Homo sapiens: one gene and its partners. Changing the gene in region 2 together with the main gene of any one other region gives a genetic interaction. Each region holds a gene or a part of one and is shown on either strand. Other genes may lie near its edges.

Region 1 (3,500 bases), on a different chromosome or scaffold from region 2:
GATTCTCTCACTTCAGCTCCTGAGCAGTTGGGACTACAGGTGCGTGCCACCGCACCTGGCTAATTTTTTTTTGGTATCCCTTGTAGAGATGGGGGTTTCGTCATGTTGCTCAGGCTGATTTTCAACTCCTGGGCTCAAGCAATCCTCCTGCCTTGGCCTCCCAAAGTGTTAGGATTACAGGCATAAGCCACGACATCTGGCCCTGGATATCTCTTTTCACAATGTGAAGATATGAAATTAAAACTTACTCTAAAATATCTAAATTTCTCAAAAACCATACCTAAAGACCGCTATGGTCTGGACAGTCACCCTGTGACTATCAATCTTAGGCCCGTGGGCTGCTTCCATTCCAGAGCAAAAGTAATGCCAATTCATCTCTGGGCTCTTCAGCACCAGGTTCTGTTAACCAGGCCAATGATGGCATAAAGTTAATGCTCAGTAAATACCAGTTGACATGTGTTATTTATTGACTGAAGAAGGAAAATGATTACCTTTGAAGATAAGTCCTAAGATATTCAAGAGCCTGGTCTCCTCTGACTCCTCTGGGTCTATATGACTGAAGGGTTCGGACTCCTGGAAGTGGCCTGTGGCTTCTCGAGTGAGAATGATGGCCTTTCTGAAAGAACACCAGCCTGTCAGTACCCAGAAGAATGTCACTGCAGCCGTTTGTAAGGGAGCTTACCTCATGATTCTATCAAGTCCCTGGACCTACTGCCCAGAGAAAAGGAGCACTTAACATGCTTAAAAAGTTGTTACAGCACCTACTAAGGGGTAGGGCTCAAAACACTTTGCCTATTTTTTTCCCCTGACTGCTCATCTGCAAACACTTTTCCTATTTCTGAACCTACAAGGCATTACTACAGTCTTCAAAAAAACTCCAATAAGGCTTTTTAAAGTTTTAAAATCATAAACCTACTCCAAACACCTGTTTAAAAACTTTCCTAAGTTTAGAAACAATAAACTTTCAATAATTAGTTAATTCAGGCACATCCAGACAATAAGATTCTATGTAGTCATAAAAAATAATGGGGACACGTGAGCCCAGGAATTTGAGATCAGTCTGGGCAACACAGGGAGACCCAACTATACAAAAAGTAAAAAAAGTTAGCCGGGTGTGATGGTGTGTGCCTGTGGGTGTGATGGTGTATGCCTGTGGGTGTGATGGTGTGTGCCTGTGGGTGTGATGGTGTGTGCCTGTGGGTGTAATGGTGTGTGCCTGTGGTCTCAGCTACTCGAGGGAGCTGAGGTGGGAGGATCACTTGAGCCTGGGAGATCAAAGCTGCAGTGAGTTGTGATCATACCACTGTACTCCAGCATGGGCAAAAGAGTGAGACACTCTCTCTCTCAAAAAAAGAGGAGAGTGGGAAACTATTTATGTATAAATATATATGTGTATATATATATATATATTTTTTTTTTTAGAGACAGAGTCTTGTTCTGTCACCCAGGCTGAAGTGTAGTGGCATGATCTTGGCTCACTATAACCTCTGCTTCCTAGGTTTGAGTGATTCTCATGCCTCAGCTCCCCAAATAGCTAGGATTACAGGTACGTGCCACCATACCTGGCCAATTTTTGTAATTTTAGCAGAGATGGGTTTCGCCATTTCGCCACGTTGGCCAGGCTGGCCTCAAACTCCTGGCCTCAAGAGATCCACCAGCTTTGGGCTCCCAAGGTGCTGGGATTACAGGTGTGAGCCACTGCACCTGGCCATCTATAAATTTTTTTTTTTTTTTGAGATGGACTCTTCCTCTGTCACCCAGGGTAGAGTGTAGCGGAGCAATCTCAGCTCACTGCAACCTCTGCTTCCTGGGTTCAAGCAATTCTCCTGCCTCAGCCTCCCAAGTAGCTGGGATTACAGGCATGAGCCATTGCACCCAGCCATAAATATTTTTAAAAACCACTGAGACACATAGTTAAGTGAAAAAAACAAGATGGTAGATCAGTGGGCAGAGAATTCTATCAGTCATATAAAAGGGGGAAAAAAAGAATACATGTTTGACTGCTTGTCTACATGTTATCTTCTTGCCACGTTGCCCAGGCTGGCAAAGGCCAGGCCTGGTGGTGTGTACCTGTAATCCCAGCTACAAATTATAAATAAATTAACCAGGCTACTCAGGAGGCTAATGTGGGAGATCGCTTGAGCCCAGCAGGGTTGAGGCTACAGTGAGAGGCTGCAGTGAGCTGTGATTGCGCTACTGTACTCCAGCCTGGGCAACAGTGAGATTCTGTCTCAAAAACAAACAATCCTTTTCTAATTGACAGGAGAAAATACTAGAATGCTTGGTGGAACATGCACTTATAAAACTATAGTCTCTATTTTTGCTTTAGCAAAATAAAAAGAGAGACACTAAAGTAACATAAGGGAGTCATAGGGCAAACAAGCCACTCTCTAGCCTTCTAAAAACAGCCCAAGCCGGGCACGGTGGCTCAAGCCTGTAATCCCAGCACTTTGGGAGGCCGAGGCAGGCGGATCACGAGGTCAGGAGATTGAGACCATCCTGGCTAACACGGTGAAACCCCGTCTCTACTAAAAATATAAAAAAAAAAATTAGCCGGGCGTGGTGGCGGGCGCCTGTAGTCCCAGCTACTCGGGAGGCTGAGGCAGGAGAATGGCGTGAACCCAGGAGGTGGAGGTTGCAGTGAGCCAAGATCGCACCACTGCACTCCAGCCTGGGCAACAGAGCAAGACTCCGTCTCCAAAAAAAAAATTCAGCCCAATTAGGTAAGAAGTAAATAAATAACAAATAACTTGTGGCTGAGGTTTAAGAATACTTGTTGGCAGCCGAGTGCGGTGGCTCACGCCTGTAATCATGGCACTTTGGGAGGCTGAGATGGGTGGATCACCTGAGGTCAGGAGTTCAAGACCAGCCTGGCCAATATGGTGAAACCCTGTCTCTACTAAAAATAAAAAAATTAGTGCGGTGTGGTGGTGCGCGCCTGTGGTCCCAGCTACTTGGGAGGCTGAGGCACGAGAATTGCTTGAACCTGGGAGGCAGAGGTTGCAGTGAGCCAAGATCGTGTCACTGTACTGCAGCCTGGGCAACAGAGTGAGTGAGACTCCATCTCAAAAAAAAAAAAAAAAAAAAAAAAAAAAAACTTGTTGACGGCTGTAAGGGCTTTTGTTGTTAAGTTCTAGAGTCACAAAAACACTAGGAGAAATCTTTTCTCTAAGATCAGGATTCATACTAGGTTTGAAGATTAAGGTAGTATTAAGCATGTTTGATATTATTAGTTCATGAAATTTAGAATTAGAAAGTCCTTAGAGATCATAAGATCTAATCAATTTCTTATTTTATAGATAATGAAACCGAGGCACAGAAAGTTAAGCAACTTATTCAAGATCATACAACTAGAACTTATTTATAGGTGCTCTTCTTCAATTGAAGGAGGACTCATGTTTGATTATAATACTGTTAACATTTAATTGTTTCAGTAGTTTTTTTAAACATTTATAAAGTAGAAACACATGCTTAATTGTGGACTAGGCCTATGGTCAGAC
Region 2 (3,500 bases):
ATGAAAGAGGTAACATCACTACAGATTCTAACAATATTAAAAGGATAATAACAAGTTAACAGGAAGAAAAAAGAAAACAAAAGAGAAGTAAAAACAGGAGTGAAAACATTTTAATAACAAAAAAAAAAGGATAGTAAGAAAATACTATGAACAACTTTATGTCAGCCAATTCAACTACTTAGATCAGGGGTGTCCAATCTTTTGGCTTCCCTGGGCCACTTTGGAAGAAGAATTGTCTTGGGCCACTAATACTAACGACAGCTGATGAGCTGAAAAAAAAAGAAAAGGTCTGTGCATAAATCTCATGATGTTTTAAGAAAGTTTACGAATTTGTGCTGGGCCGCATTCAAAGCATCCTGGGTTGCATGCAGCTTGCAGGCCACAGGTTGGACAAGCTTGACTTAGATGAAATGGGCAAAATCTGTGAAAGATACAAACTAAAAAAGCTCATCCAAAAAATAAATAAATAAATAAATAGGTAACCTCAATAGTTCTAGATCAACTAAAGAAACTTAATTTGCAGCTTAAAGCCTTCCCACAAAACTCCAAGTCCAGATGGCCTCACTGGTAAATTCTATCAAACATTTTAGGAAGAAACAATACTAACTCTACACAAACTCTTCCAAAAAACTGAAGGAACTCAATTTGAGGTCAACATTATTCTGACATCTCAACTACACATTACAAGAATGCTACAAATATCTTTTGTGAACAGAGACACAATTCTCAAGAATTCTCAAGAAAACTTTAGCAAACTTTAGCAAACTTGAATTCAACGTATATAAAAATAATACAACATGATCAAGTGAGGTTTATCCAAGGAATGCAAGGTGGCTTTAGCATTTAAAGACCGATAATTCACCATATGACTAGACCAAAAAATGGAAACCACAGAATGAAGTAAAACTATAAAACTTCTCTAAGAAAACACAGGAGACCTTGGCTTTGACAAAGGATTCCTTAAATACAAAAAGCAGAAATATAAAGGGAAAAAATTAATCAGACTTCATTAAAATTTTTAAATGTTTGCTCCCAAGACACTGTTAAGAAGTAAAAAGACAAGCCACAGATCAAGAGAAAATATTTGCAAAAGATATATCAAACTAAGGATTTCTATCTAGAATATGTAACAAACTCTACATTTAAGTAAGACAACCGAAGATAAAAATGAGCAAAAGATCTGAACAGATGCCTCACCCTGCCCGTGATGATATACAGAAAGCAAATAAGCATCTGAAGGAAATGCAAGTTAAAACCACAATAAGGTAACAGTACACTGGACTACCTAAAACTAAAAGGGCTAACTATATCAAGTGTTGGTGAGGAAGTTGAGCAACTGGAACCCTGATATGCTGCTGATGCCAATGTAAAATGGCACAACCAGTTTGAAAAAAAAAGTCTGGCAGGTTTTTCTTTTTAAGTAATCACACACCTAATATACAATCCAACCATTTCACTCCTAATGTTTTTCCCCCAAACAAATGCAAGCATACGTCCCTACAATGACTTGTACAGAGATGTTCATAGGTTTCTTTTTCAGAAAGCCAAAAACTGGAAACAATCCCAATGTTCATCAATCATCTGAATAAATAAATAAAATGTGGTGTATCTACACACAGAATACTATCCAAAAATTAAAAGACGAGGCAGGCAGATACTTGAGGTCAGGAGTTCAAGACCAGCCTGGCCAACATGGTGAAACTCCATCTCTACTAAAAATACAAAAATTAGCCGGGTGTGGTGGCATGTGCCTGTAATCCCAGCTGCTTGGGAGGCTGAGGCAGGAGAATTGCTTGAACCCAGAAGGTGGAGGTTGCAGTGAGCCGAGATCGCACCACTGCACTCCAGCCTGGGCGACAGAGCGAGACTCCATCTCAAAAAAAAATAAAAACAAAAAAGAAATAAACTACTGACACATACAACAACGGAAGAATTTCAAAATAAGTATACTGAATGAAAGTAACTGAGGCAAAAAATGAGTATATACTATATAATCTCATTTATAAAAAATTATAGAAAATGAAAACTTATCATACGGTCAGAAAGCAAACCAGTCAGTGGTTGGCAAAAGACAGGTGGCAGGGAGGGATAGTAGAAAGGAACTACAAAAGGGCAGAAGGAATGTTTTAGAGGTCACGTTCACTGTCTTGGTTGTGCTGGTTTCACAGATGTATGCACTGTATTAAATTATATACTTTAAGCCCAGGACTTTGAGGCTGCAGTGAGCCATGATTGCACACTACATTCCAGCCTGGTGACAGAGCAAGACCTCAACTCGAAAAAAGTTAAAAGAAAATTGTACACTTTAATTACCTGCAGTTTATTCTATGTCAAGTATACCTCAACAAAGCTGCAAAAACACCAAAGGTTGGGGGAGGTTTCAAGGAAAGCCAGAGAATGAGAGAGAAAATAAAAATAAAAATACATGAGTCTAAGAGGACCAGTATCCTGAGTCTGGAAAGGGAAGAAAAAAAGGTCAAGAAATCATCAAACAGCATTCCCTAAAACCGAAGAACGTAAGACTCCAGACTCAAAGAGTGAGCCACGTACTGATCAAAATGAATCTGAATTTAAAATAACATCTATACCTGGGTACCTAATAATGAAAGTTTACACTATCAAGAAAAAGATCTTTTTAAAATCTAGGAAGGAAAACTGATCACAAAAGAATGAAAGCATATGAGCATAAAAATTAAGTCCTTCTGGTTTCCACACTAGCTCTGACATTTATCAGCTGAGTGACCTTGGGTATGATACGCGACCCTGCTGTGTTTCCATTTTCTCATCTGAAATAATAATAAACATAACAATAATCATTATTTTTCTGAGATGGAGTCTCGCTCTGTCACCAGGCTGGAGTGCAGTGGCGGGATCTCGGCTCACTGCAATGTCTGTCTCCCGGGTGCAAGTGATTCTCCTGCCTCAGCCTCCCAAGTAGCTGGGACTACAGGCGCGCCACCATGCGCAGCTAATTTTTGTATTTTTAGTAGAGATGGGGTTTCACCATGTTAGCCAGGATGGTCTGGATCTCTTGACCTCGTGATCCACCCACCTCAGCCTCCCAAAGTGCTGGGATTACAGTCGTGAGCCACCGCACCCGGCCAATAAACATAGTAATTATTATAACATAATAACAATATTGGTTGTCTCCAAATAACGTGCTTCTATTATTTGTATGTAATAAAAATAATTACAACAGTAGAAGTCATGTGGTTGTGAGGATCAAACAAGTTATAATAAAGTTCTTAAAACAATGGTAAATGCTATATAACTGCTGGTTAAATAAATACATCACATTAACACCGAACTTGTCATCAACACTACTAGATGAGAGAGTACAAAAGAACAATTTCTTTCAAAGTTCTGAGGGAACCTAATATTAAAACTGGAATTCCTGGCCAGGTGCGGTGGCTCATGCCTGTAATCCCAGCACTTTGGGAGGCAGGGGCTGGTGGATCACCTGAGGTCAGGAGTTCAAGATCAGCTTGGCCAACATGGTG
Region 3 (3,500 bases), on a different chromosome or scaffold from region 2:
GAACTGTTTAAGTATTAAGGGAATTTTTAAGAAGTAAGGGAATTTTTTCTAAATCCCAGATGGGGTTTTTTGTTTGCCAAGTTCCTTCTTATTTCTTGTAATCTTTCCTTATTGCATGTCTGTGTTGGGCTAACAATATATTAATACAGAATGTTTATGCTTTGATTTTTATATATTTAGTTGTTAACTATCGTTGTTTATCTGTTCTGACATAAGCTTATGCAAAGTAGAACCGGTTCTTATTACTTATATTCCCTTTTTCAATTATAAAAGTTTAAAGTACTATAATATATCTACAGACATGCATAAAGATAATATTATATTGGGGTATTTGATTATTGGAATTAGTTAATTGGTTATGATTGACCTTGAATGCTGATTTTTTTTTTTTTTTTTGAGACAGAGTCTCTTTCCATGTCCCGATCTCGGCTCATTGCAACCTCCACCTCCCGGGTTCAAGCGATTCTCCTGCCTCAGACTCCCGAGCAGCTGAAATCACAGGCACCCGTCACCATGCCCTGCTAATTTTTGTATTTTTAGTAGAGATGGGGTTTCACTATGTTGGCCAGGTTGGTCATGAACTCCTGACCTCAAGTGATCCGCCCGCCTCAGCCTCCCAAAGTGCTGGGATTACAGGCGTGAGCCACTGCGCCCGGCTATGATTTAATACAAGTGTTTTGAAAGCAGAAAATATTAGAGTCCTAAAAGTTAAATATGATATAATGAAAATAGTTAGAAGTTCAACAATATATAATAAAGGAAACACATATTAGCATCCAACTTACCAAGAAAAATGTCTATTGGTTGGAATCTATTTACTTTACTGATTTGCTTTAAACAGATTAGAACAGAATAAATGTATAGACATGGTTTAAGGATTAGTGAATGGCAGGTACTGGTGCTTGAAGCATTATATTATATTGAGGAAATATACACACCTCTAACTGGGAAACTTAACTGCTGTAAAGTTGATGCACTTATACAGTAACCAATTTGGGGCTCATAGGCGATGGTATCTAAACATTCATTCCAATCTTGCACATTAGTAACAGGACAATCCTGTAGATGGGTGACAAGGTCTCCCACAAAAAGGCCTCTGGGTCCAATGGCAGGAGAGTCCTTGGGAAGAGGGTAAAACCAAATCAGATAATGCATGAAGACAAGCTATAATTAATCTGAGCAAATAATAAAGACACTGAGTTAATTAAGTGAATAGTTTGAATGCAGAAAATAATCCAGCTTTGAATTCAAGACATAGTCCTAGAAAATTAAAATAAAACCCAACAATTATAGTTGCTTTTCCCAAATTCTCCAAGATTTTGAATTTTTCACAATTGAAAAAAAGCCGACTTGCTGACTGTTAAGACTAAAATGATAAAATTTTTTCCCAAACTGCCAATTAAAAATTTTTTGGTGAAAGTATCATCAGACTGTCTTGCCTTTCCTATATCCTTAACGCATAAAACAATAAGACACATCCTTTCATATCCCCAATATGCAGGCAATACCATCAGTACAATGTATATGTAAGCCAATTGCTCACAAAGGTAATTTTCCTCTTTCTAATGTCTGAATACAAGATTTGATGCCATCATAGCAGTTATTGTCTAAGGGAGTGAAATACAGAGTTGAAGACATTAACTTAAACTCCTATGAAATGTTACGGCTGGACAGCCTAGGTTTCATCTTTCTTACTACTTAGGAGGCGTAAAGACATTTGACTCAAAAGCAGAGATATAAAAATAAACAGAAAAGGTAAATGATGCATTTTACCAATAAACTACAGGTAGAAAATCTTGATACTATCTTCCTAAGTACAGCATCAGGACAAAAACAATTTTCATGAAACTTTAAAAAAACCAATGTGTTTCCCAACATTATTTGTTAGATTTGAGAGGACTACAGTAATTTCTTCAGAAGAAACTAAGCATTTTGTATATGAAGAGATCTTGAATAAAAGTTTCTGAATAGATGCTAGGTATTACATCACAACATCTGATGAAAGAATGCCCTGAGTAATCCATTATTTACCTCAGCAACTTCAGTGATGAGCACCCCAACTCCAGTGTAGTAAAATGGCAAGAGAATTACTGGGAGGAGAACAAGAGCTAAAATACCCAAGAGTGCAAGGACAAAATTATGCCAGATACCTGGAAAGAGAGGAAAAAAAGCAATAAGCTCAACCGGGGGCAGGAATGATATAAGTAGCTGGACCTCACAACACTTGGGCATTCTGATAAATTAATAAAGTGATCAGAAGAAGCAATGAGGCAAAAATATCTACTTATTAGTAGAGCAGACAGATGTTCAATTATTAGTTACTTTCATTTTAGATATTGAAATCTAAAATGGGCATGTTAATACCACACTAGGAAGACCACATGCTAACATGATTTGATACTGATAGAACTAATATCTTCCACTAATTATACTCTCTTTTCAGAAAATGTATATATCACTAATTTAAACATATTTGTGATCTTTGAAAGAAACCTCATATACATTCAAATAAAAAAAACTCTTGCTAAACAGGGGTACAGAAACTCAAATGGTACTTGGAAAAAGGAGGTTGTTTTAAGAACTAAACTATTATGCAGAACAATATTGGTGGAACAAACCGAGCATATATTTTACATCACGTCACAGACTATAAAGCAACAAACCATAAGAAAACTGTCGGCCAGGCACGGTGGCTCACGCCTGTAATCCCAGCACTTTGGGAGGCCAGGGCGGGCGGATCACGAGGTCAGGAGATCAACACCAGCTTGGCCAACATGGTGAAACCCTGTCTCTACTAAAAATACAAAAAAATTAGCCAGGCATGGTGGCGCGCGTCTGTAGTCCCAGTTGCTTGTGAGGCTGAGGCTGGAGAATTGCTTGAACCCGGGAAGCGGAGACTACAGTGAGCTGAGATCGTGCCACTGCGCTCCAGCCTGGGTGACATAGCACAGAGCAGGACTCCGTCTCAAAAAAAAAAAAAAAAAGAGAAAACCGTCTTTATTATTTTTTTTTAAACCCTAAAATTTAGGTACTCAAATTCATTAATCTTTTCCATTATATATTCAACCTTTGCAGCTGTGCAAAGGAAGACTTTCTCGCCCCTAACATTATGTAAGTAATCACTCTTTTTGTGGAGAAGGATGGTTTAAATAGTTTTATTTTTACATTTAAATCTCTTACCATTTGGAATTTATTTTTGTGTATGTGTGTGATTTTTACATTTAAATCTTTTACCATTTGGAATTTATTTTTGTGTATGGTGTGACTGATACATATAACTAATTTTATTCAAATGTTTAGCTAATAATTACTGAGCAGTGCATTCTTTCCCTACTAAATTAAATGCAACTTTTAATTTACAATACATTTTCATCTATTCTTTGGCTTGCTTCTGGAATTTCCATTCTTTTCCACTATTCCAGTGACAATAAAGCTGTTGCTGGTAGTAATATTTCAGTATTTAGTAAATAAATACTTTCAATTTGTTTATTTTGGTTATT
Region 4 (4,298 bases), on a different chromosome or scaffold from region 2:
ACGCCTGTAATCCCAGCACTTTGGGAGGCCGAGGCGGGTGGATCATGAGGTCAGGAGATCGAGACCATCCTGGCTAACAAGGTGAAACCCCGTCTCTACTAAAAATACAAAAAAAATTAGCCGGGCGCGGTGGCGGGCGCCTGTAGTCCCAGCTACTCGGGAGGCTGAGGCAGGAGAATGGCGTGAACCCGGGAAGCGGAGCTTGCAGTGAGCCGAGATTGCGCCACTGCAGTCCGCAGTCCCGCCTGGGCGACAGAGCGAGACTCCGTCTCAAAAAAAAAAAAAAAAAAAAAAAAAGACAAATAGAGCTGGGTTCAGTGGCACACACCTGTAGTCCCAGCTACTTGAGAAGCTGAGGCGGGAGGATCACTGGAGCCCAGGAGTTCGAGGCTGATATAGTGCACCATGATCCCATCTGCACTCCAGCCTGGGAAACACCGCAAGACAAACCCACCCCACACACACACCCCACCCTCGTCTCAAAAAAAAAAAATTAAACCCCAAAAATATATTAAACAAAAGACATATCCCAATTTTAGAATGTGCAAAGAACTTGAAAAAACATTGCATCAAAAAAGACATACAAATGGCCAATTATCTCATGGAAATATGCTCAGCATCACTAATCATTAGAAAAATACCAATGAAAACCACAGGGTACCACTTCACACCCACTGGAATGGCTATAACTAAAAAAATGCACAATAACAAGTGTTGGTGAGGATGTGGAGAAATTGGAACCCTCACACATGGCTTGTAGGGATGTAAAATGGTGCAGTTTCTGTGGAAAACAGTTTGTCGGTTGCTCAAAATGTTAAACATACAGTTATCATAGAACCCATAAATTCCTCTGCCAGCATATACTCCTAAGTATATAACTAAAAGAAATGAAAACATGGTGTGGTCACTTTAGCCCAAAGACTCTCAGGTTTATTTTGTGGGCCCTTTGGACTGTAACTCCATAAGATCGGTACGGCGCAAGCCACTAGGACTGTTTTTTGTTTTGTTTTGTTTTTGCTTTTGTTTTGAGACAGTCTTGCTCTGTCGCTCAGGCTGGAGTGCAGTGGCGTGATCTCGGCTCACTGTAACCTCCGCCTCCCAGGCTCAAGCGATTCTCCTGCCTCAGCCTCCCCAGTAGCCGGGATTACAGGCGCGCCCCACCACGCCCGGCTAATTTTTGTATTTTTTAGTAGAGAAGGAGTTTCACCATGTTGGCCAGGCTGGTCTTGAACTCCTAACCTCATGATCCGCCCGCCTCAGCCTCCCAAAGTGCCGAACGGTTTTTGGGTTTTTTTTGGTTTTTTGGGGGGGGGGTTTTGCTGACTTTCTTGTTTTGTTTGTTGCTTGCCACGCTGCCATCAAGTGCTCACTGTCGCAAAAGAACCGTCCCCATGCAGTACTGTACTTTTCTTTTCCCTTCTGCCGTCAACCTCGGAGTAGCTTCGCTCCCAGAAGGCCTCAAAGCGCGACCAAAGAGCGTGACAGAGCGCTTTACGACAGTTGCTTTGAGGCAGTACCGGAGGAGAAAGATGGCGGCTACCTTACTAGCTGCTCGGGGAGCCGGGCCAGCACCGGCTTGGGGGCCGGAGGCGTTCACTCCAGACTGGGAAAGCCGAGAAGTTTCCACTGGGGTGAGGAAGGAATCGGGGTTCATAGGACGTGCACAAGGCCTGACGCGATGGGAAGATAAAGCCTGAGTGGGGTTGAGAGATCTGGCAGGGGTGGAGAGGAGGTGGAATGTGTTGTGCTCCAGGAATGGGGAGAGGTACCCCGAAGATGGTGGAGTGGTGCGGTAGCTTCGTAGTGGGAGGTGGAGGGTGGGCTGAAGTTTGAAATTCTGAAATCCTGCGAGGCTAGTGAGGATCTTGGGCTTAAGTACGGGATGAGTCTTTTGAGATTTGAGGGTTGGCATTCTGGTATTCTGCGGGGTGCTGAGGCCCCTATAAGATTTGAAAATGGTTCAGCGACGGACAGATTTTGTATTTTTGGAACTAGGTAGAGAGATCATTGAGGTTTGTGTCTGCTGGAGAATGTAGACTTACTCCTTTTTCCCTTTTCCCAGACCACTATCATGGCCGTGCAGTTTGACGGGGGCGTGGTTCTGGGGGCGGACTCCAGAACAACCACTGGGTGAGCTCAGGACAGATTTGTGAAAGGTCTTCCCATCTTCCTTTTCCTTTCCTGCCTGCCAGCCCACCCTGCCTGCCTCCACAGACCACTGTGGGAAGAGAGGTTTCTTCTCTCTCTGGAGATAAAGATTTGTCCCAACTTTTGTTACTTTCAGTTCCCCTCACTCGTTAGTGGAATCCTTACAAAAGTCTGTTCTCCAGCCCGCTTCAGTTTGGATGAGAATAAGCAATACTGGAGGCCAGGCACGGTGGCTCACGCCTGTAATCCCAGTACTTTGGGAGGCCGAGGCGGGTGGATCACCTGAGGTCAGGAGTTCGAGACCAGCCTGGCCAACATGGCGAAACCCCGTCTCTACTAAAAAATACAAAAATTAGCCGTGCGTGGCGGTGCGTGCCTGCAGTCCCAGCTACTTGGGAGGCTAGGGCTAGAGAATCGCTTGGACCCAGGAGGTGGATGTTGCAGTGAGCAGAGATCGCGTCACTGTACTCCAGCCTGGGCAACAGAGCGAGACTCCATCTCAAAGAAAAAGGAAAAAAAGGCAATACTGGACATCCTATCCCTGAGCCCTAAGAGAGTGGGTAGTGATGGGATGGAGGTGGAAGACAGGTGGGCTCCTTTCCTCACTATTCTGCCATCCTGCAGGTCCTACATCGCCAATCGAGTGACTGACAAGCTGACACCTATTCACGACCGCATTTTCTGCTGTCGCTCAGGCTCAGCTGCTGATACCCAGGCAGTAGCTGATGCTGTCACCTACCAGCTCGGTTTCCACAGGTGCTTGTGGGCAGGGGAGGGGCAAGTATCTGAAGGGAGTTGGAAGCTGAGGAGCTAAATAGCCTGACTTCTAGGTCTTGAAACTTTCTCTGTGACTTCCCTGACCCTCTAGCATTGAACTGAATGAGCCTCCACTGGTCCACACAGCAGCCAGCCTCTTTAAGGAGATGTGTTACCGATACCGGGAAGACCTGATGGCGGGAATCATCATCGCAGGCTGGGACCCTCAAGAAGGAGGGCAGGTCAGATCCCCACCCGACCAGAGCACACTTGAGCCAGGACTTTTATCCTCTCCCCAGCCATTTTCTTTTTCTTTCCAGTCTCTACCTCACTTATTCTTACTATTAACGTGCCTCAGACCAATAGCAGAATGGACAGGTGAATGTACGTGTGTTGGAGGGAGGATACGACTGGTGACTCCTCTCCTTCTATCTGGCAGGTGTACTCAGTGCCTATGGGGGGTATGATGGTAAGGCAGTCCTTTGCCATTGGAGGCTCCGGGAGCTCCTACATCTATGGCTATGTTGATGCTACCTACCGGGAAGGCATGACCAAGGAAGAGTGTCTGCAATTCACTGCCAATGGTGAGAGCTTAGGCTTCTGGGCCTATGAGCTTCAACCCCAACTACCCAAGCCAGGCCAGCATTCCTCATTCCTTGCAGTGATCCCGGCATCTGAATCTGAACCCAGCTTTCTTCTTTTATCCACAGCTCTCGCTTTGGCCATGGAGCGGGATGGCTCCAGTGGAGGAGTGATCCGCCTGGCAGCCATTGCAGAGTCAGGGGTAGAGCGGCAAGTACTTTTGGGAGACCAGATACCCAAATTCGCCGTTGCCACTTTACCACCCGCCTGAATCCTGGGATTCTAGTATGCAATAAGAGATGCCCTGTACTGATGCAAAATTTAATAAAGTTTGTCACAGAGAATCTTTGTACTTTGGGGTTCTTTTTTTTTTGACTTCAAGTCCGAATTTGTCTGGCCCATTCCTATTTGTAAAAACCATTGCACTGAACTCAGAGCAAGTTGGAGAGGAGATGAAAGGAGTTTATGAATGCTTTATTCCCCAGTAAACTTTTACATGGGTGGTTTTCAAACCTCTTCTCCAAATTGCCTTCCCCCAAACTTCCTTTCCCCCACCATATCCAGGTCCTTGAACCACTGGATTGTGGTTGGTGTTGGGGGTACCAGCAACACCCACTCCCTGTTCAAGCCCAAGGTGGAACTCGGAATTCTGACTAAAACTGGAGTCACCTTCCTTCAGCCTGCTTCCTGCCAGTCATCCTGGGTGACTACTGTCCCTAAGGCCACAAAGACCAGCCTCCTCCAGCCCAGCCTCATGGTCCCCTCTCTCCACACTTAACCTCTGTTACCTCACCTTGTGGTCAGCAGTAGCA
Region 5 (3,500 bases), on a different chromosome or scaffold from region 2:
TCCTGACCTCAAGCAATCCGCCCGCCTCAGCCTCCCAAAGTGCTGGGATTATAGGTGTGAGCCACTGTGCCTGGCCAGGAGTCCACCAATTCTTTCAACTTTAGAGCAGCCATCGAGGAGAATGCCAGCCATGGTTTACCACATCAAAGGATACCTTTCCTATCCCATGGCAGGAATAAAACTGTCTTCTTAGAAAAGATGACATAAATAATCTCAATACGCCCTCTAAAATCTTTCACTTCAACCTCCATTCAGAGAAATAACCTAACCCTCATCACAAGTTACAGAAAAAAAGAAAAATTCTCATTTGTCTCATAGAATGAACATACAAGAGTAAAAATGGCAGTGAAAAGCACAACAAATAGATATTTAAGTGATTACAGTGGAATGGGATGTGTGAAAACATAAAATGTCTATGAAATGTCACAAAATACCAAATGGATACCATTAAAAAAAATACACATTTTTTCTTGCTGCAATAACTTTCTCTATTTACTAGCTCCTATGAAATCTTGTTATTTATTAGTAAAACCTTTAAAATTAAAAGACCAGTAATCAACACCTCCAGTTCAACAAACAGTACCATTTCACCCCTGTGCCAAATCGGCAATTTTAACTCCAGTCCCCAGAGCAATCTGGTCCCCAGCCCAGCCTCTTGGGAACAGAAACAGTACCTGGTTTGGGAGGGGCTTTAGTCTGAGCTTTAACTGTCACAGGTGTTATCTTTGGCTTCTGGTTCTTTGGTGGCTCATCCTCGGAGCTTGAGTCAGAATCAGAATCAGAGCTCTTGGCCTTCTTAGGAGGAGCTTTGGCTGCCTTGGCTTGGGGCTTAACTCCCTTCTGTTAGAAAAGACACAAGGAGAGAAATCAGCAAAAGCTTCCGGGTACCCAAAGGGCATCCTAGGTTCCTTTTATTTTTAGGGGCCTAATGGAGCAGTAAGAGCAAAAGAAAGCTAAGGACAGGATACGGAAAGGGCAAAAAACAACAAAGTTCAGCCACTTGATACACTGGCCCTGTTCCTGCCTTATCCTGCCAAAGCTCCCAGGAAAACACTCTCTCTTATTCTTGGAGCCCTGAATAGTGTCCCAGAAGAACCCAAACTCCTCAAGCAGAATGGGTTTAATTTCCTCTAGATTCGGAGCCTGACCTCAACCTCACACATCCCTTCCAGACCTCATACTTTTATCAGCTCCCTGAAAATCCCCAGATTTTCTTCCTCATAATCACCTATTGTATTGCCGCCATCACCCCTTGGTTACAAGCTAGAGGCCAAGATTTTAGGTTTCTTCCTTTCTAATCCTTAAACCCCTTTTTCTTCCCAAAGCTGCAAACCTGGACAGGCTGTTTCTTTTGGTCCTCCTCATCATCATCATCACTGGACTCTTCACTGCTGCTACTCTCTGATGCTTTGGCTGCAGCCTTCCCAGGAGGCAGACCGACTCGCTTGGCAGGTACAGCTGAACAAACACACAGGTCCCAGTAAGAATCAGCCATGTGAAACAAGCAGGCTGTAAATTCTTTTCCTGGCACCACCAAGCCCACCTGCTACTCTGCCTTACCAGCCTTCTTTGCTGGAGGCCCTTGAACTTCCTCCTCCTCCTCGCTGCTGTCCTCACTGTCACTGGATGAGGCCTTCTTCTTAGCTTTCTTAGCCACTGGTCCATTTGCCTGTAACTTTCGCTCTGGGACCTTGGCAGACCTGCTGAGGTAGATTGGACCAATTTCTAGGGGACTGGAATCTTCCCAAACCAAGAAACACAGCCCAGCCTATCTTGGGGGAGAAAATAGCCAAAATGGAACAGGAAAGGCTTACTTGAGCCAGAAGCTATAGATGTCTAAGAGGGAAGAGGCATTGGCATCCTGCTGTGTCTGTAGAAGAAAAAGAGCTGGGTAAGGAAATTATTTTATCCTGGTTATGCTTTCATTAAATGTGGCCTGTTACATACATAATTACTAAATTTGGTATAAATGTTACATCTTCATAAAACTTTTGCTACGTGCATAAATCAGGAGAAAAATATTCTATTTGTGGATTTCCCAATTTCTGATGTAAAAAACGGGCTACTCCTATGTTTGCGGCACCATCTAACCATCTAACCCCCTGCCTGCCAATCTATATTGATCAAAGTCCTAAAACAAAACAAAACAAAAAATCAGCCAGTCACGGTGGCTCATGCTTGTAATCCCAGCACTTTGGGAGGCCGAGGCAGGCAGATCAAGAGGTCAGGAGTTCAAGACCAGCCTGGCCAACATGGTGAAACCCCATCTCTACTAAAACAAAAATTAGCCCAGCATGATGGCAGATGTCTGTAGTCCCAGCTACTTGGGAGGCTGAAGCAGGAGAATTGCTTGAACCTAGAAGGCTGAAGCAGGAGAATCACTTGAACCTAGGAGATCGCGCCACTGCACTCCAGCCTGAGCAACAAGAGCAAGACTCCATTTCAAAAAAAAAAAAAAATCACTTTTGACTGGGCACAGTGGCTTATGCCTGTTATCTCATGTTATCTCAGCACTTTGGGAAGCTGAGACAGGAGGATCACTGGATGCCAGGAGTTCAAGACCAGCCTAAGCAACATAGCAAGACCCCCATCTCTACCCCTCTGCCAAAAAAAAGGCTCTCTCTTTACTCTAGCAATGTACTATCTAAGAATGTAATCTTATCCATTACTTGAGGGTACAAACACTAATACAAGAAGGTTTTTCCTGCAATGTGGATTATAATACCAAATCATTAGAAATAAGCCTCCAGGCGGGATGCAGTGGCTCACGCCTATAATCCCAACACTCTGGGAGGCCAAGGCGGGCAGATCGCCTGAGGCCAGGAGTTCAAGACCAGCCTGGCCAACATGGAGAAACCCTGTCTCTTAGCCGGGTGTGGTGGCAGGCGCCTGTAATCCCAGGTACTCGGGAGGCTGAGGCAGAAGAATCGTTTGAACCCCAGAGGCGGAGGGTGCAGTAAGCTGAGATCGCGCCACTGCACTCCAGCCTGTGCGACAGACCAAGACTCTGTCTCAAAAAAAAAAAGAAAGAAACAAGACTAGTAAGTACTGTATTGAATGTAAAGAACTGCATTTAAGGGCCAGGCACGGTGGCTCAGGTCTGCTGTAATCCCAGCACTATGGGAGGTCGAGGTAGGCAGATCATGATGTCAGGAGTTTGAGACCAGCCTGGCCAACATGGTGAAACCCCATTTCTACCAGAAACACAAAAAATTAACTGGGCATGGTGGTGCACACCTGTAATCCCAGCTACTCAGGAGGCTGAGGCAGGAGAATCGCTTTAACCCAGGAGGCTGAGGTTGCAGTGAGCCAGTATCACACCATTGTACTCCAGCCTGGGCGACAGAGTAAGTCTCAAAAAAAAAAAAAAATGCATTCAGGCCGGGCGCAGGTACGCTAACACTTTGGCAGGCCAAGGCAGGAGGATCACTTAAGGACAGGAGTTCAAGACCAGCCTGGGCAAGACAGTGAGACCTCCATCTCTCTCTCTCTCTCTTTTT
Region 6 (3,500 bases), on a different chromosome or scaffold from region 2:
GTTTTATTTTGTCTACAGGTTGCTGTGACATGGTGACCAGCAAAGCTCTGCAGGGTCCTTGCTGATTTTTCAAATGCTTGTCAGCTCTGAACCTGCCCTGAGCTCTGAGCCAGTGCTCTGTGGCCGATTTGGTGGCCACTGCACTGGGTGGCTTTTTAAATTGCAGTTTAATTCAGCAAAATGAAAATTTCAACTCCTCAGTCACATGAGCCACATACTGAAAGTTCATTAGCAGTGCATGACTGGTGGCCCGGTTTGGACAGTGCAGACAGAACATGCCTGTCATCATAAAGAGCTCTGCGGGCATTGCAGGCGGTGGGGCAGGACTTGGGAGGGTGAGGGGAGGTGGTGGCTGTCCTCCAAATGCCAGCCCTCACGCTGTCCTAGTACCCCAGTCCTTGGCCTGGTGGTGCAAAGGGAGAGGTACCAGGCTCCTATTCGATGCAGTTTTATCGTGTGAGGTTTCTTCTATGGTTATTTCCTACCCAAAATCAGTCTTGTTAAAACACACAGATCCCACGTGTACACAGAGGAAATGAGGTGATTCTGAAAGTTCTCACTTGTTCCAGGTGACGAGAGCAGACGTGGATGTCCAGCCCTATGCGTTCACAACCAAGTCTCTGTTTGTTGGGCACATGGATTATAAGTATCTACGTTGGCAGGTGAGAGTCTTGTCTTTATTTTTATTCATTTATTTATTTTGAGTTGGAGTTTCACTCTTGTTGCCCAGGCTGGAGTGCAGTGGCATGATCTCAGTCCACTGCAACCTTCACCTCCCAGGTTCAAGTGATTCTCCTGCCTCAGCCTTTCGAGTAGCAGGGATTACAGGTGCACACCACCACGACCGGCCAATTTTTGTGTTTTTTTAGTAGAGAGGGGGTTTCACCATGTTGGCCAGGCTGGTCTTGAACTCCTGACTTCAGGTGATCTGCCCGCCTTGGCCTCCCAAAGTGCTAGGATTACAGGTGTGAGTCACACTGCACCTGGCAAGAGTCTTGTCTTTAAACAGAACAAATATCTTGGTTTATCAAGAACTTGAAATTTCTCCATCATCATAAAGAAAACTCATCTGAGCTCTTGGGATGCATAAGAACAGGTCGCATGTCTCTGATATAATTCAGGGGAGGCAGCCAGCTGCCAGTGTGGATTTCTGCATTTTCTTAACATAAAATGAAATTATCTTTGTGTCATTTCTAACTCTGTTATCAGAAATGGCATATATACAGTTTAAAAGCGTGAAGCAGGCTGGGCACAGTGATTCACGCCTGTAATCCCAACACTTTGGGAGGCCAAGGCAGGCAGCTAACCTGAGGTCAGAAGTTCGAGATTGGCCTGGCCAACATGGCGAAACCCCATCTCTACTAAAAATACAAAAATTAGCTGGACGTGGTGGTGGGTGCCTGTAATCCCAGCTACTTGGAAGGCTGAGGCTGGAGAATCGCTTGAACCCAGAAGACAGGGGTTGCAGTGAGCCGAGATTGTGCCATTGCACTCCAGCCTGGGCGACAGGAGCGAAACTCTGTCTCAAAAAAAATAAATAAATACAAAGCAAGAAGCAATGTTTCCACACTCTAATTTTGTAAATTGTGAAGAAAGTAATTCCTAAGACATGGGAGGGTTCTCAGTTATCCCAGTTTTTGTGTTTTATGATGTCGCTGGTAAAAAGAGGAGTCATTTCTCTCAACATCATGGCTAGCATTTCTTTGAGCTCTACAGGGTTCCTCCTCCCTTTTTTGATGTTTAAATAGTATGTACTTTTCTGTCACTGGTTTATTTTGTGGTATTCAGTTTGGGAGACCTACTTTTTTTTTTTTTTTTTTTTTTTTGAGATGGAGTCTCTGTCACCCAGGCTGGAGTGCAGTGTCGCTATCTTGGCTCACTGCAAGCTCCGCCTCCCTGGTTCACGCCATTCTCCTACCTCAGCCTCCCGAGTAGCTGGGACTACAGGTGCCCGCCACCACGCCCAGCTAATTTTTTGTACTTTTAGTAGAGATGGGGTTTTGCCGTGTGAGCCAGGATGGTCTCGATCTCCTGACCTCGTGATCCACCCGCCTCGGCCTCCCAGAGTGCTGGGATTACAGGTGTGAGCCACCGCACCCAGCCCTACTTTTTTTTTTTTTTAACTACAATTCTGCTGTAAGATTATTAGGTCTGGTTGGGTGTGTGTGAGTGACTTCTGGGATGTGCTGGACAAGAAGCTTGTGGGTGAGTGTGCTTTCAGTGACAAGGTCTGGCTGTGTTAGGTTGTAGACACTCCTGGGATCCTGGACCACCCTCTGGAGGATAGGAACACCATCGAGATGCAGGCCATCACTGCCCTGGCCCACCTCCGTGCTGCGGTCCTGTATGTGATGGATTTGTCTGAGCAGTGTGGGCATGGGCTGAGGGAGCAGCTAGAACTCTTCCAGAACATCAGACCTCTCTTCATCAACAAGGTGTGTGTGGTCACTCATGTTTTGCTTCATATCCTGCAGTACGAGAATAATGATTTCATTATTTTTCTTCCTTGCCTAGCCTCTCATAGTTGTAGCCAACAAATGTGATGTGAAGAGAATAGCTGAACTTTCTGAAGATGATCAGGTAAATCACGTTAATATTTTGAATATTTCTTACTTACCAATTCTGAATTCTCATCTCAGACAACCAAAGTTTAGATGAAGGAATTTTAGCAATACTAGTCCACAATTGTATTTTATAGTTGAGATAATATCCTCAGTGGTTTAGTGAAAAGACATAATAAAAACTTAGTTATTGGCAAACTAAAACGAAAACATAAGTTTCTGGATTCTTTGTTCTTGAGTGTGTGGAAGCATCTGTATTTGATGGGTTGGACTTTTGGAAAATGTGATTACTTAGGAGAGAACTGTTGGAGAAGGGTGCTCACAGGTGTTACTTCATAAAACAGGTTCTGTGATTAAATGAGTTTGGAGACTAATGATTGAGTGAAGGAGAAGGAGGATCTTGGAATTTGGGCTTTCTGGATCTGGATCTATGAGTGAGACGTGCCTGCTAGCTTTCTCCAAGAGGCAGGCAGTATTGTTGGACATAATTTTTCAAACTGATTGAATCCTACAACCTTTTTAATAGGCATCCTTCATGATAAATGCTTTTAGAAGCGTGCACTGGTGGAGTGGCTTTCAAATTGTGGTCCTGGCCCAGCAATGTCAGCATCACCTTCTTAATTTCTTCCTTAATTTCCTCATTGATCCATTGGTCATTCTGGGACATGTTTATAATTCTCATGGGTGGTTTTTTTTTTTTTTTTTACAGTTTTGAAAGTATCTCTTGGTATTGATTTCTAGTTTTATTCCACTGTGGTCTGAAAAGATACTTGGCAATTTTTAAAAATTGATGAGATTTGTTTTGTGGCCTAACATATGGTCTATCCTGGAGAATGTTTCATGGACTGAGGAGAGGAATGTGTTTTATGCAGCGGTTGGATGACATGTTCTGTAGATGTTTGGTCTACAGTGCACTTTTTTTTTTATTTTATTTTTGTT
Region 7 (4,034 bases), about 14 Mb from region 2:
ACATAGCAGCACTATTACTTTTTTTTTTTTTTTTGAGACGGAGTCTTGTTCTGTTGCCCAGGCTGGAGTGCAGTGGCACAATCTCGGCTCACTGCAAGTTCTACCTCCCCGGTTCACACCATTCTCCTGCCTCAACCTCCCAAGTAGCTGGGACTACAGGCACCCGCCACCACACCTGGCTAATTTTTTTGTATTTTTAGTAGACACGGGGTTTCACCGTGTTAACCAGGATGGTCTCGATCTCCCGACCTCGTGATCCGCCCGCCTCGGCCTCCCAGAGTGCTGGGATTACAGGCGTGAGCCACCATGCCCGGCCAGCAGCACTATTCCTAACAGACCAAAGTGAAAACTGCCCAAATGCACTGTCGATGGAATGGATGAATACGTTGTGATATACTTACACAAAACACACCATACAGCAACAAGAATGAACAATCTACAAATACACGCCAATCAATTTCTGAATTCCAGGTCACTCCCATCATAAAATACACAAGGACTAAGCTAAAATCTCCCTTGTTGTCAGAACTTGCTTCAAGTCCTAAGGGCATGGTTAGAGATCAGAGTATTTTAACTGAATAGGAAAATACTTTGAGGTCACTAGGCTTAAGTTTTTGTTGTTGTTGTTTTTTGTTTTTTGTTTTTTTTTGAGACACAGTTTCACTCTTATTGCCCAGGCTGAAATGCAATGGCACAATCTCAGCTCACCGCAGGGTGAGCTCCACCTCCAGGGTTCAAGCAATTCTCCCGCCTCAGCCTCCCAAGTAGCTGGGATTATAGGTATGCGCCACCACACCCGGCTAATTTCTGTATTTTTAGTAGAGACGGGGTTTCTCCATGTTGGTCAGGTTAGTCTCGAACTGCTGACCTCAGGTGATCCACCTGCCTCGACCTCCCAAGCAGGCTTAAGATTTTTAAAAATTAAAGTAAAAGTAAAAAAATAAAATAAACAGACTTCTAAAAGTGACCTCAATGAGCAGAACTAAGAAACAATGGGCAGCAGTAATGGAAGACAGATCCAGCTTAATGAAAGGACCGGCCGGGCGCAGTGGCTCACGCCTGTAATCCCAGCACTTTGGGAGGCCGAGGTGGGAGGATCACCTGAGGTCAGGAGTTCAAGACCAGCCTGGCCAACATGGTGAAACTCCATCTCTACTAAAAATACAAAAAAATTAGCCGGGTGTGGCGGGATGCGCCTGTAATCCCAGCTACTTGGGAGGCTGAGGCAGGAGAATCACTTGAAGAGAGTGTTGCAGTGAGCCAAGATCGTGCCATTGCACTCCAGCCTGGGCAACAAGAGCGAAAACTCCATCTCAAAAAAAAATAATAATAATAATAAAAAGGAAAGGACCAACGACCAGAATTAACAGTGCTGACAGGTAGGAAGGTAGGGTAGAGATGTGGTAAAGGGAATTTAAGATTCCAACGTAACTGAGCAGGAAGACCGCATATCTTAGCTAATCTTTACAGAGACAGAAATGGATGCTTAGAAAGAGAAAGCACCTTGCCCAGTCAGTGGCAGGGAGAGATGAGATACAAATCCTCGGCTGGGTATAGTGGCTCTCGCCTATAATCCCAACACTTTAAGAGACCAAGGTAAGAAGATCACTTGAGCCCAGGAGATCAAGGCCAGGCTGGGCAACACAGGGAGGCCGCGTCTCTACCAAAAATGTAAAAATTAGCCAGGTGTGGTGGCACGTGCCTGTGGCCCTAGCTACCTGGTAGGCTGAGGTGGGAGGATCACTTGAGCCTAAGAAGTTGAGGATGCAGACAGCTGTGATCTTGCCACTGCACTCCAGCCTGGGCGAAAGAGCAAAAATCTGGCCTCAAAAAAAAAAAAAAAAGAGAAAAATCCTTCTCCAACACTAGGAACTAGGTGTGGAACTTACTGAGTCACTTAGGTCAAGTCTCAACTTCCTCATCAGTCAAGTTAGGCCAGTAACTCCTACCTTCTAGTGTCTTTGTGACGAAGGAATGAGAACAGGAGTGAAAGCACTTTACATTATTTGTTATTACTATTATCCAGCAGCCTTTGCTAGAGGGTTGCCCCGATCTCCTGACGCTTGGCCTGAGAGATTCTATAGTGCCCAGAGATAACAGATGATACCCTGGGAATCCCTAGGTCACTCCGGGTTCCCTCCGGGGGTGTAATTAATGGTGCTTGGAGACCACTCCCTCCCTCGGCGTCCTCCACCTGCCTTACCCACACACATGCGCCCGATGATGCGGCAGCCGGCGATAGACGCGTGCACCACGGGGATGGTATCGGAGAGCTCGCCCTCGAACACACTGTAGGGACATGGACTCGGTGGTGGCGGGGCAGAGGGGCCGGCACCCTCCCACTGCCGGAGCTCTTGACTCCTGCGCACGCCTCCCCGCCACCGTAAGCCCCGGGGCTCCCGCCGCACCTGTAGAAGTTCTCTGAGCCTCCGATCGCTACCAGACAGTAGGTGTTGGTGAGCTTGGCAAAGCAGCCGATCTCACAGTTGTTCTCGAACGAAGCTCGGACCGCCATGAGGCCTAGGGGCGGCGGAGGCGGGAGTTCAAGGCCGGCGGATCCTTTCCCAAGTATCCCGGCCTCCGTCCCTCAGGCCCCGCCGCGACCCCGCCCCTCTCGGCCTCCCGGCCCCTCCGTCCTCGGGTCCCGCCCACTGGGCCCCCACCAGAACCTCCGGCCCTGAATCCTCTGGCCCCCACCCCTCCCGACCCAGGACCGGAGCTGACCCTCCCAGGTTCCCCTCACACCAGCTTACCAAGTAACCAGTAACAAGCTCCGCACGCGGCGACTGTACCTTGGACTCCCTAAAAAGGTTTCCGTTTCCACTTCCGTCCAGGGAGACTTCCGGGAGAGCCCGGCGCTCCCCGCCACGCATCCAGCCCCTCTACCTCCGGCCTCCGGCGGACTCTATGGTCGCGAGCGGTCTGGGCGCGACCCCGCCTGGCCCCACGCCTAGCCTGCTCGCGTTCATTCATTCATTATTCATTCAGGAGCTTTTTAGGAGCTGTCATCGACCTAGACCTCCGGCTGGTCGGTTGTGAGGCATGAGGGAGAGGAGGGGCCAGGAGTGTCTCGCGGAAGGGTTGATGATGGAGGTATTGATGGAAATGAAGCCGGAGGAAGGGCAGGTTTGGGGAAAGGGATGAGTCCAGCTGTGCCTTGAGGGACAGAAGTCCATGTCTGGAGCCCAGCAGGGGAGTGGAGTGCTGACGAATGAGATGAGGGGCTGAAGACGGGTGGACTAGAAGAGGCTACCCATGGAGAGAGTTCCAGGAGGCAGAAGTGCGGCCAGACCGAGGCTGGAGAAAGAGCGCAGCCAGAGACGGAAAGGCAGCCAGGCTGCAGGTGCTGGAGAGAGGGGAGGACTGAGGAAGCAGGGGCTCAGGAAAAGGCTGGAAAGGGGTCCAGGGTGGGCAAGGATGTGGGTGCTGGTTGGCTTCCACGATGTGCCTCTCGCACGGCCTCTATCACTCACTCAGCAGCCAACTTCTGTCCCCAGGATAGTGATGGGGGCCAAGGGCCCTGCTGCACACTTGGACAGGATGAACTTGGCCCACATTTTGTAGAATCTGCAAAAGCCCCGGGTTCTCTCAAAATGTCACAGTGGTAACTTGGAGCCCCTGGACTCCCCCAATTCCTCCTTCGGCATTCACCCTCCTCCAGGGGTTTCCCCATAATTGGCCTGAATGGTGCCCTTCCCATTCCCCCAACGTGTCCCTCCCATAACTCCTCAAAGTTCAGGATACACCAGGCGCTGTGATTCACAATAAAGTCTGCCTTTATTGATGTGTATCATGTTTACTATCCCGGGTAAGTGGTGAGTTCAGGAAAATGGCCCACAACCTGTCACAGCCTGTACTTCAAGAGACACTCAGCAAGATGATGACGACGACAATGATGATGATGATGATGATGACTCAGCAAGATGATGACGACGACAATGATGATGATGATAATGATGATGTGTGTGTGTGTGTGTTTCCGGGTATCCACATACTCTGCTCTTCCTCACTCATTCACCTCAGACCCACTCAGT

What was found.
Region 1: changes in XRN2 (region 2) and NCAPD2 together harm fitness less than expected from each alone (positive genetic interaction), as found in Homo sapiens cells (one large-scale study listed by BioGRID).
Region 3: changes in XRN2 (region 2) and MBTPS2 together harm fitness less than expected from each alone (positive genetic interaction), as found in Homo sapiens cells (one large-scale study listed by BioGRID).
Region 4: changes in XRN2 (region 2) and PSMB6 together harm fitness less than expected from each alone (positive genetic interaction), as found in Homo sapiens cells (one large-scale study listed by BioGRID).
Region 5: changes in XRN2 (region 2) and NOLC1 together harm fitness more than expected from each alone (negative genetic interaction), as found in Homo sapiens cells (one large-scale study listed by BioGRID).
Region 6: changes in XRN2 (region 2) and GTPBP4 together harm fitness more than expected from each alone (negative genetic interaction), as found in Homo sapiens cells (one large-scale study listed by BioGRID).
Region 7: changes in XRN2 (region 2) and EIF6 together harm fitness more than expected from each alone (negative genetic interaction), as found in Homo sapiens cells (one large-scale study listed by BioGRID).

Annotation. Positions count from the first base shown.
Region 1 is NC_000012.12:6,518,102-6,521,601, reverse strand, and holds part of NCAPD2 (condensin complex subunit 1), read right to left. Parts: intron 617-3,500; coding exon 492-616; intron 1-491. UniProt on the Homo sapiens protein: Regulatory subunit of the condensin complex, a complex required for conversion of interphase chromatin into mitotic-like condense chromosomes.
Region 2 is NC_000020.11:21,306,331-21,309,830, reverse strand, and holds part of XRN2 (5'-3' exoribonuclease 2), read right to left. Parts: intron 1-3,500. UniProt on the Homo sapiens protein: Possesses 5'->3' exoribonuclease activity. May promote the termination of transcription by RNA polymerase II.
Region 3 is NC_000023.11:21,867,117-21,870,616, reverse strand, and holds part of MBTPS2 (membrane-bound transcription factor site-2 protease), read right to left. Parts: intron 2,151-3,500; coding exon 2,032-2,150; intron 1,120-2,031; coding exon 939-1,119; intron 1-938. UniProt on the Homo sapiens protein: Zinc metalloprotease that mediates intramembrane proteolysis of proteins such as ATF6, ATF6B, SREBF1/SREBP1 and SREBF2/SREBP2.
Region 4 is NC_000017.11:4,794,666-4,798,963, forward strand, and holds PSMB6 (proteasome subunit beta type-6), read left to right. Parts: upstream 1-1,498; 5' UTR 1,499-1,529; coding exon 1,530-1,631; intron 1,632-2,062; coding exon 2,063-2,130; intron 2,131-2,772; coding exon 2,773-2,904; intron 2,905-3,016; coding exon 3,017-3,146; intron 3,147-3,343; coding exon 3,344-3,488; intron 3,489-3,594; coding exon of another isoform or gene 3,595-3,614; coding exon 3,615-3,757; 3' UTR 3,758-3,830; downstream 3,831-4,298. UniProt on the Homo sapiens protein: Component of the 20S core proteasome complex involved in the proteolytic degradation of most intracellular proteins. This complex plays numerous essential roles within the cell by associating with different regulatory particles.
Region 5 is NC_000010.11:102,155,389-102,158,888, reverse strand, and holds part of NOLC1 (nucleolar and coiled-body phosphoprotein 1), read right to left. Parts: intron 1,871-3,500; coding exon 1,815-1,870; intron 1,704-1,814; coding exon of another isoform or gene 1,701-1,703; coding exon 1,561-1,700; intron 1,459-1,560; coding exon 1,334-1,458; intron 841-1,333; coding exon 675-840; intron 1-674. UniProt on the Homo sapiens protein: Nucleolar protein that acts as a regulator of RNA polymerase I by connecting RNA polymerase I with enzymes responsible for ribosomal processing and modification.
Region 6 is NC_000010.11:998,434-1,001,933, forward strand, and holds part of GTPBP4 (GTP-binding protein 4), read left to right. Parts: intron 1-569; coding exon 570-662; intron 663-2,243; coding exon 2,244-2,435; intron 2,436-2,514; coding exon 2,515-2,580; intron 2,581-3,500. UniProt on the Homo sapiens protein: Involved in the biogenesis of the 60S ribosomal subunit. Acts as a TP53 repressor, preventing TP53 stabilization and cell cycle arrest.
Region 7 is NC_000020.11:35,281,973-35,286,006, forward strand, and holds the start of EIF6 (eukaryotic translation initiation factor 6), read right to left. Parts: upstream 2,801-4,034; 5' UTR 2,754-2,800; intron 2,746-2,753; exon of another isoform or gene 2,521-2,745; 5' UTR 2,516-2,520; coding exon 2,409-2,515; coding exon of another isoform or gene 2,290-2,408; coding exon 2,204-2,289; intron 1-2,203. UniProt on the Homo sapiens protein: Binds to the 60S ribosomal subunit and prevents its association with the 40S ribosomal subunit to form the 80S initiation complex in the cytoplasm. Behaves as a stimulatory translation initiation factor downstream insulin/growth factors.